Regions from separate parts of the Homo sapiens genome. Here regions 1 and 3 are each linked to region 2. The links come from fine-mapping of genetic effects on gene expression. A gene starts in region 2. Each other region holds a variant in brackets. All regions are shown on one strand. Distances are between the middles of the regions. Region 1 overlaps GLG1 (golgi glycoprotein 1). Region 2 holds the start of GLG1 (golgi glycoprotein 1). Region 3 overlaps GLG1 (golgi glycoprotein 1).

Region 1 (2,684 bases), 44 kb after region 2:
AGTTCAAGACAGCGTAGGCAACATAGCAAGACCCTGTCTCTACAGAAAATACAAAAATTAGCCGGGCCTCGTGGCACATGCTGGTAGTTCCACTACTCAGGAGGCTGGGTGGGAGGATCACTTGAGCCCAGAAGGTTGAGGCTAAATGAGTCATGATTGAGCCACTGCAGTCCGGCCTGGGTGACAGAGCAAAAACCTGTCTCAAAGAATAAAAATAAAAGTGTCAGCAACTTCACAGATACTTCCCTGATTAGCCAGTAGGCAACCTTGAGCAATTCTGTTATCCAGTAGACCTTTAGCAAGATAATTTAAAGAAGTCTGTTTTGTAACCATAGCCTTTGCAGTAGAATCTGCTATGGAGCATATCATGAGGAACAAATTTCTTTTTTTTTTCTTTTTCTTTCTTTTTTTTTTTTTTGAGACAGGGTCTCACTCTGTTGCGCAGGCTGGAGAATAGTGGCGTGATCTCGGCTCCCTGCAACCTCTGCCTCCTGGGTTCAAGCAGTTCTCCCACCTCAGCCTCGCAAATAGCTGGGACTACAGGCACACGCCACCACGCCCCGCTAATTTTTGTGTTTCTGCTAGAGACAGAGTTCCCATTTTGACCAGGCTGGTCTTGAACTCCTGACCTCAAGTGATCTGCCCACCTCAGCCTCCCAAAGTGCTTGGATTACAGGCATGAGCCACTGCGTCCAGCCCATGAGGGACAAATTTCTAGACACTGTATCGTTTACTCCAAACTCTGGAAAAAGTGACCTAACAATGAAGGCCATTCAGAATGATGAAGGCTTCCAAGCACTAGTGTTCTTTTTCACCTCTGATGTAGGTTAAAAGGAGTGGACCAGTGTTCTCTTTCTGACAGAACCATTAAAATTCCTAACCCACATTGGACTGTCATCTTTCATCCATTAAGACATAATGCTGCCTATGGATAAGGTTGGCTGTAAAAGTTTTCACAAATAAAAGTGTGCCCCATTGGTGCACCATAAGACCCCTTTTCTGTTGTTCATAGAGGCATAAACAAGGAAAACATTGAGAGGTAAGAGTCTCATGATGACAGAGAAGTTTTGATCCATGCTTTTGGGAAAGCTGTCCATGTCTAGGGTGCCATCTGCTTCTGGGGGAAAACCTTTTCTAACTGGTTAGCTTTACGTTAAGATTTCCAATGGGTGTACAATTCCAAGTCTGGAGGGGCCCTCCTGCATTGTGATATCAATTGACCCAGTGTTTGAGGCCCCAGAGTTTTGCTTCATTGTGGGTAACAAGGGCAGTGTTTTCCTGACGTCATTTCCAGAAGAACCAACCTCCAGGTTCTAGATTGTGAAGGATTTGAATGTCCTCAGTGGGTGGGTCATGAAAAGCTTCCTTTACTGCCAGCACGGTAGCTCATGCCTGTAATCTCTACACTTTGGGAGGCCGAGGTG[G/T]GCGAATCACTGGAGGTCAGGTCTCTGGAACCCAGGAGTTCAAGACCAGCCTGACCAACATGGTGAAACCCCATCTCTACTAAAAATACAAAAATTAGCTGGGTGTGGTGGCGCATGCCTGTAATCCCAGCTGCTTGGGAGGCTGAGGCACAAGAATTGCTTGAACCCGGGAGGTGGAGGTTGCAGAGAGCTGAGATCACACCACTGCTCTCCAGCCTGGGCAACAGAGTGAGACCATCTACAGAAAATAAAAAAAAGAAAAGCTTCCTTTAGCTGGTGAAAATACACTTTGGTATAATGCATTAAAGGCTTGCAGCATTTATTCATATCAGAGTTTGGGAGAGGAAGATACATGAGGTTCTATTATTAGTGGCATAGGCCTTCCAGTGACTATTTCATAATGAGTCAACTTATATTTTCTACTGGAAGCAGATGAGGTTGTCATCAATCTGCAATACCTTTGACCAAGGCAACCAGTCAATTCAGTTAGCTTCACCTAAAGCTGTTGTGTCTGTAATACCTTACTTAACTGTTTACAACTTGTCCAGTGAAACAAGTACCACTATCACTGGAGATTTCTCCAGGAATGCCCCGTGAGGGAAACACATTTTCTGACAACCTTTTAGCTACTGTTATAGCATCAGCCTTCTTGCATGAGAAAGCTTTTACCAGAAAACGTGTTGAAAATGACAGTTGAATGAAATTCCTCTATAAGTGTTCCAATGACCCATCAGGTAGCTGAAGTTTTAATTATCTTCCCAGGTTGTAGGTTTGATAAGCCAAACCTTGGTCATAAACCATTTTTAGCGATTTAGAGCAGTCACCACACCAATGTATATGTTTTCTATTTGGATCATTTTCTGTCTTCCATGATGAGTCATGGAGTGCAGAGCTTTTAATAATGGAAGATTTACGGATTCAGGAAGGACCAGGTGGCTGTGCAGGATCTCTGTGATTCCATGCTTAACATTGCATTTATAGCCTGTTAAATACCAATTTTGTATCTCCAATTCAGGTGCATAGCACTGTTCATTAAATGGGTTATCATAGGTAATTTGACTTGGAACATAGAGTTCATTCAAGTTGCATATCTTAACAGTTTTAGTACTGGCTGATTTAGCATGAAAATCTGGCAGAGTATTTTTCTTAGTATTCAGTTAATTTTTGTCCTGCTTGGGTTAGCAGTTTTATAAACCAGTCTCTTTATTAAAGTTCTGGGAATTCTTACCCAGTCCAAATTAGATGAGCCTAAAGTTATCA
Region 2 (2,684 bases):
AGATGTAATTCGCATTTTTGGACACAATGACCAGTGGAGATTACACAACCCAAACTGCCCTCATTCCCCAACATGTGCATGGACAGAGTGGGATGAAAGTGCGCCAGGGTGGTGGGAAGCCCCAGGGATTCTGGTGGCTAGCCTAGCTGTCTACAGGATGGCAGAGTTCCTCTTGGGCAGCTCATTTAATCCCTCCACGCAGAACTGTTAACATCTCTGTGCCATTCTTCAGTTAAATGAGAACCTAACGCAGGCCTGATGCATGGCTCAGATTACACAGCGGATGTGAAGAGGCTTTGGGAACATATCCTCTCTCCTAAGGACAGGGAGGGGATGCTAGTGTGGGGTGCCTGCGGTGTTGCATGCAGGTCAATGAGAACAGTTACCGACACACAGACTTAACCCGAGTCCTCAAAGATGTGTTTTATTATTATTTTTTCATCCTTTAAACATGAATCTAAATGCTGGCTTAAAATCAGGATTCATGCATAAACGGCTTCCCAGTTTATTAACAATACTGGCTGTGACTTTTTGAGTTCAGTGTTGTGGGCCAGGCACTTAAATTATTATTTCGAATCTTGCCAATGGTACTTTACATTTGAGCTCTTGCGTACCCTGCCAGAGCAAGGATTATAACCTTAATTTTTTTTCTTACCCCAGAACTTATGCTCTTAACCCTATTCAATGCTGTCTCTCTCTTTGGCTAAGAAAGACTTCTGAGGCAGATGGAAGGAAGGAAGGAAGGAGGGAGCGATACAAGGAGAGGCTTTCCGATTCCGTAATACACCTGGTTGTGCAAAGTTCACCTCTACATATAAAGTTTTTGTTTTCCAAGTCATTGAACCGGCGACATATTCTACCGGCCATTTTGGTTGTGGCAACCCCAATTCCCTTGATTTTTTTTTTTGTGACAGCAAATGGAATTAGAGTAGGCCGCCCTGCCCGGGCTTTTTAAGAAACCCCAGCAACCCCCCCGGGTAAGGAGCGCCGCTCTCCCGCCCGCCGGTCCAGGGTGTGTGCGGTTTCCAGCACGGCCTCCTCCTTCGCCCCACTCTGGGTTCGCGGGTCGGCGCCGGCGGGGCGGGGCTCGGCAGGGCCACGCTGCCACGCCCAGCGTCTCCACCCCCTCATTTAAATACGCGGCGCCGGCGAGTGCGTCGAGCTCGCCGCGGACTCAAGATGGCGGCGTGTGGACGTGTACGGAGGATGTTCCGCTTGTCGGCGGCGCTGCATCTGCTGCTGCTATTCGCGGCCGGGGCCGAGAAACTCCCCGGCCAGGGCGTCCACAGCCAGGGCCAGGGTCCCGGGGCCAACTTTGTGTCCTTCGTAGGGCAGGCCGGAGGCGGCGGCCCGGCGGGTCAGCAGCTGCCCCAGCTGCCTCAGTCATCGCAGCTTCAGCAGCAACAGCAGCAGCAGCAACAGCAACAGCAGCCTCAGCCGCCGCAGCCGCCTTTCCCGGCGGGTGGGCCTCCGGCCCGGCGGGGAGGAGCGGGGGCTGGTGGGGGCTGGAAGCTGGCGGAGGAAGAGTCCTGCAGGGAGGACGTGACCCGCGTGTGCCCTAAGCACACCTGGAGCAACAACCTGGCGGTGCTCGAGTGCCTGCAGGATGTGAGGGAGGTGAGGAGGTGGGACGAAGCCGGGAGGGCCAGGCCTGGTGCGGGCCCGAGGGTGTTGCCGGCCTTGGAAGCCGCTGACGCCGGTCGGCTGCTTTCCTTGCTTCCTCTGTGCTGCACTCGCTCCTTCCCTCTTTGCTCCTCACTCCCAGGCGCTTTCAGGGAAAAGGATACCACTCCCACTCCTTCTTTCCCCCGCCCTTATTTCCCTCCCTGTTGCCGGGGTCTGGGACGAAAACCTGGGCTCCTGGCCGCAATCCGCCGAGGCCCAGAGCGTGTCTGTTCGCTCCTGTCTTTTGTGTGATGCTCTATGCAGAGTGTCTCCTCGCCGAAGATCAGTTTAGGATTTTGCCATCAGTTTCGACTAGGACAATTTGTGGCAAGCCATTTAAACATAAAAAAATGCCTGGCGTACTTAGGCTGTAAAGAATGATCTGTTTATTAGCAGTAGATGTAATTCGCAAATCCATATTTTTGGTGCTGAAATTAATGTATGCTTTGTTTTCTTCACTTCCTTTGGTCAGTTGTATTGAACCCCATGTTTAAGCTGTTAACTCCCAGTGACTTGGCGCCCCAAAGCTTGAAAAGTTGGGGAAGCGTTTGAAGCTGTGTTTGTGACTGGGTTATGGGATCTTGCCTTTCTGAGGTCTGAATGTGATTTTAACAGTATCTCTTAATGAAATCTACATTTGTCGTTGCTTGGTGTGATTCAGTTGAGTGACATTGATAATTTATAATCAAGTGACATTGATAATTTATAATCTAGGTTTAATGCTGCAGACCATAATGACAATTCTCAAAGTTTGGGAGCAAATCTGACAGTAGTAACTTTTTCCAGAGGTGTAGGTATATAAAATTAGCCCTAAAGGTGGACAAATAGAATGAAGCTACCACTTGATACTGTTTTTGGTTTTTTTTTTAAATATCAGATTTGTTTAAGGCGTTCAAGCTATAGCAAGACCACTTGCTTGTAGAAATTTGCTTCTCTTGGCATTTCCCCCCTTCATCTCGTGTTCTAGTATTCTATACAAAAGCAATTCAGATAGAGGAAAAGACATACATAAGCAGGAG
Region 3 (2,684 bases), 30 kb after region 2:
GGACTGTGCGGTGCCACAAAGAGTATTTGGACAAGGCAGTAGCTGCAGGAGATGGCATTAGTTGGCTGAGTTCTACAAAAAGCTTTTATCTACTTTAATGAGATCAATTTTCGTCCATTTCCTTCTTGTTTCAGTCTTATTCATCAGTCATGAGTCATCACATACTCATAATAAACAGTTTTTCAAAAAGAGATCAAATGTATTGCAACTTAGGTCTAATTAAACAAAAACAAACAAAATACCTCAGACAACCAAAATTGTGTCTTACTCATTCTTTTAGTTTTAACAGAGAACAAGGAGCAAATCCAAATGATTGCTGTTAGAATGGGTTTTGTTTTTGAGAGACAAGGTCTTTCTCTACTGTCCAGGCTGGTCTTGAACTCCTGGCCTCAAGTAATCCTCCTACCTTGGCCTCCCAGAGTGCTGGGATTACAGGCATGAGCCACTGCACACTTTTAATCCCAGCACTTTGGGAGGCCAAGGTGGAAGAATCACTTGAGCTCAGGAATTTGAGATCAGCCCAAGTAACATACTGAAACCTCATCTCTACAAAAAATAAAAATAAAATTAACCGGTCATGGTGGCTGGTAGTGCCTGTGGTCCCAGTTACTCAGGAGGCTGAAGCAGGATTGCTTGAGCTCAAGAGATCAAGCTTGCAGTGAACCATGATGATGCCACTACCCTCCATCCTGGGTGACAGAATGAGACAATGTCTCCAAAAAAATAAAAATAAAAAGAATGTTTTCGTGTGAAGTCAGAATACTTACCCCTTCCTGTTTTATAGTTTTTCATTATTGTATTTGGGATTCTTTTTTTTTTTTTTTTGAGATGGAGTTTCACTCTTGTTTCTCAGGGTGGAGTGCAATGGTGCCATTGCTGTTCACTGCACTTTCTGCCTCCTGAGTTCAAGCGATTCTCCTGTCTCAGCCTCCCGAGTAGCTGGGATTACAGGTGCCTGCCACCACACCTGGCTTATTATTGTATTTTTAGTAGAGATGGGGTTTCACCATGTTGACCAGCCTGATCTCGAACTCCTGACCTTGGGTGATCCACCCGCCGTGGCCTCCCAAAGTGCTGGGATTACAGGCAGGAGCCACCACACCCAGTCCTCAATGTCT[A/G]TTTTTTAAAATAAGTGGGCTTACACCTGTATTTGCAGCACTTTGGGAGGCCAAGGTGGGAGGATCTCTTGAGCCCAGGAGTTTGAGACCAGCCTAGGCAACATGGAGAGACTCCTGTTTCTACCAGAAAATTAAAAACAATTAGCCAGGCATGGTGGCATGCACCTATGGTGCTAGTTGCCTGGAAGGCTGAGGCAAGAGGATTGTTTGAGCCCAAGAAGTTGAGGCTGCAGTGAGCTATGTTCATGCCACTGGGAGACTGACAGAGTGACATTCACCCTGCCTCTAAAAAAAAAAAAAAAAAATTAGGAGTGGTTAGAATTTATATGCAGGGTACATGGTTTCTTCCAAGAGGTAAAAATAAAAATATTTCTTCAGCTACTCAATTCAGTATCTCATTCATGAGTAAAGAAAGTATACTCAAAGATTATATTTAAAATGAAAACAATAAAAATTTTTTCTTCAGCAGGCTTCATTATTTTTTTGTTTAGCAATTTTTGTACCTTAAAAAAGAATAGATTTGTTCTCTAATTTCTCCAGCAACCTTATTTTATGAAGCACTCATTTATGCCCCATTTATATCTCAGACCAGAGGTGGGCAAACTGTAGTCCAAGGGACAGATCCAGCCCCACAACCTGTTTTAGTATGGCTCTGGAGTTAAGAATGGTTTTTATAATTTTAAAAGGTTATTAAGGGGATGCCATAGAGACCACAAGAGATTGTATGTGTTCTGCAAAGCCTAAAATAAGTATGGTATGCCTCTTTACTGAAAAAATTTGCTGACACGTGTCTTAGACTATAATATATAATGTACATGCAACTCATTTAAAATGGTCTATGATCCATCCAAATCATGGTGTCATTTTAAGTTAGAAAAATGTTTGGCTGTATTCTCTTTATATGTCTTGCATTTTTATAGAAATTCACGGAATTTGTCAGTCTTTAATAGTTGGTGTGGAGTTTTATTAACCAGGGCCAAATGTGTATGTATGACACCACAGACTTAAAATAGTTTGAACTTTTTTTTTTTTTGAGAAGGAGTCTCGCTCTGTCGCGCAGACTGGAGTGCAGTGGTGCTATCTCAGCTCACCGCCGCCTTCACCTCCCGGGTTCAAGCAGTTCTGCCTCAGCCTCCTGAGTAGCTGGGATTACAGGCAACCTCTACCATGCCTGGCTAATTTTTGTATGTTTAGTAGAGACAGGGTTTCACCACATTGGCCAGACTGGTGTCAAACTCTTGACCTCAGGTGATCTGCCACCTTGGCCTCCCAAAGTGCTGGGATTACTGGCGTGAACCACCGCGCCTGGCTAGTTTGGAATTTTGAGAGAGAGAGAGAGAGCATGAGAGCACACTGTGCTTGTATGCTTACTGTTGGTTGTATATGGTTTCGTGATACTGCTTTTTTGTTGGTGATGAATTTGAATATATTGCCACTTCTCTATGAAATCAATATTTTCTCATTGATATCTATATTTACAGCATAAAAATAAAGAGCGAGCTACTGCGGAAGCTGAGGCAGGAGAATTGCTTGAATCCGGGAGGCAGAGGTTGCAGTGAGCTGAGA

What was found. PIP is the estimated chance that this variant, and not a neighbour inherited with it, causes the effect.
Region 1: its variant is the best candidate, but not a certain one, in a credible set for the expression of GLG1 in whole blood (GTEx, PIP 0.61).
Region 3: its variant is the best candidate, but not a certain one, in a credible set for the expression of GLG1 in whole blood (INTERVAL, PIP 0.50).

The regions. Positions count from the first base shown.
Region 1 is chr16:74,561,461-74,564,144 of GRCh38, reverse strand. The region is part of intron 1 of GLG1 (golgi glycoprotein 1); the gene reads left to right. Among named protein-coding and RNA genes, the nearest start is that of GLG1, 44 kb to the left of the region's middle. The variant G/T (reference allele first, on the strand shown) is at 1,425.
Region 2 is chr16:74,605,590-74,608,273 of GRCh38, reverse strand. GLG1 (golgi glycoprotein 1) reads left to right here and starts at 1,160. Exons shown (of 26, transcript NM_001145667.2): 1 at 1,160-1,617. The coding sequence starts at 1,180. RefSeq lists silencers at 990-1,179, 1,410-1,589.
Region 3 is chr16:74,575,664-74,578,347 of GRCh38, reverse strand. All of the region lies in intron 1 of GLG1 (golgi glycoprotein 1), which reads left to right. Among named protein-coding and RNA genes, the nearest start is that of GLG1, 30 kb to the left of the region's middle. The variant A/G (reference allele first, on the strand shown) is at 1,119.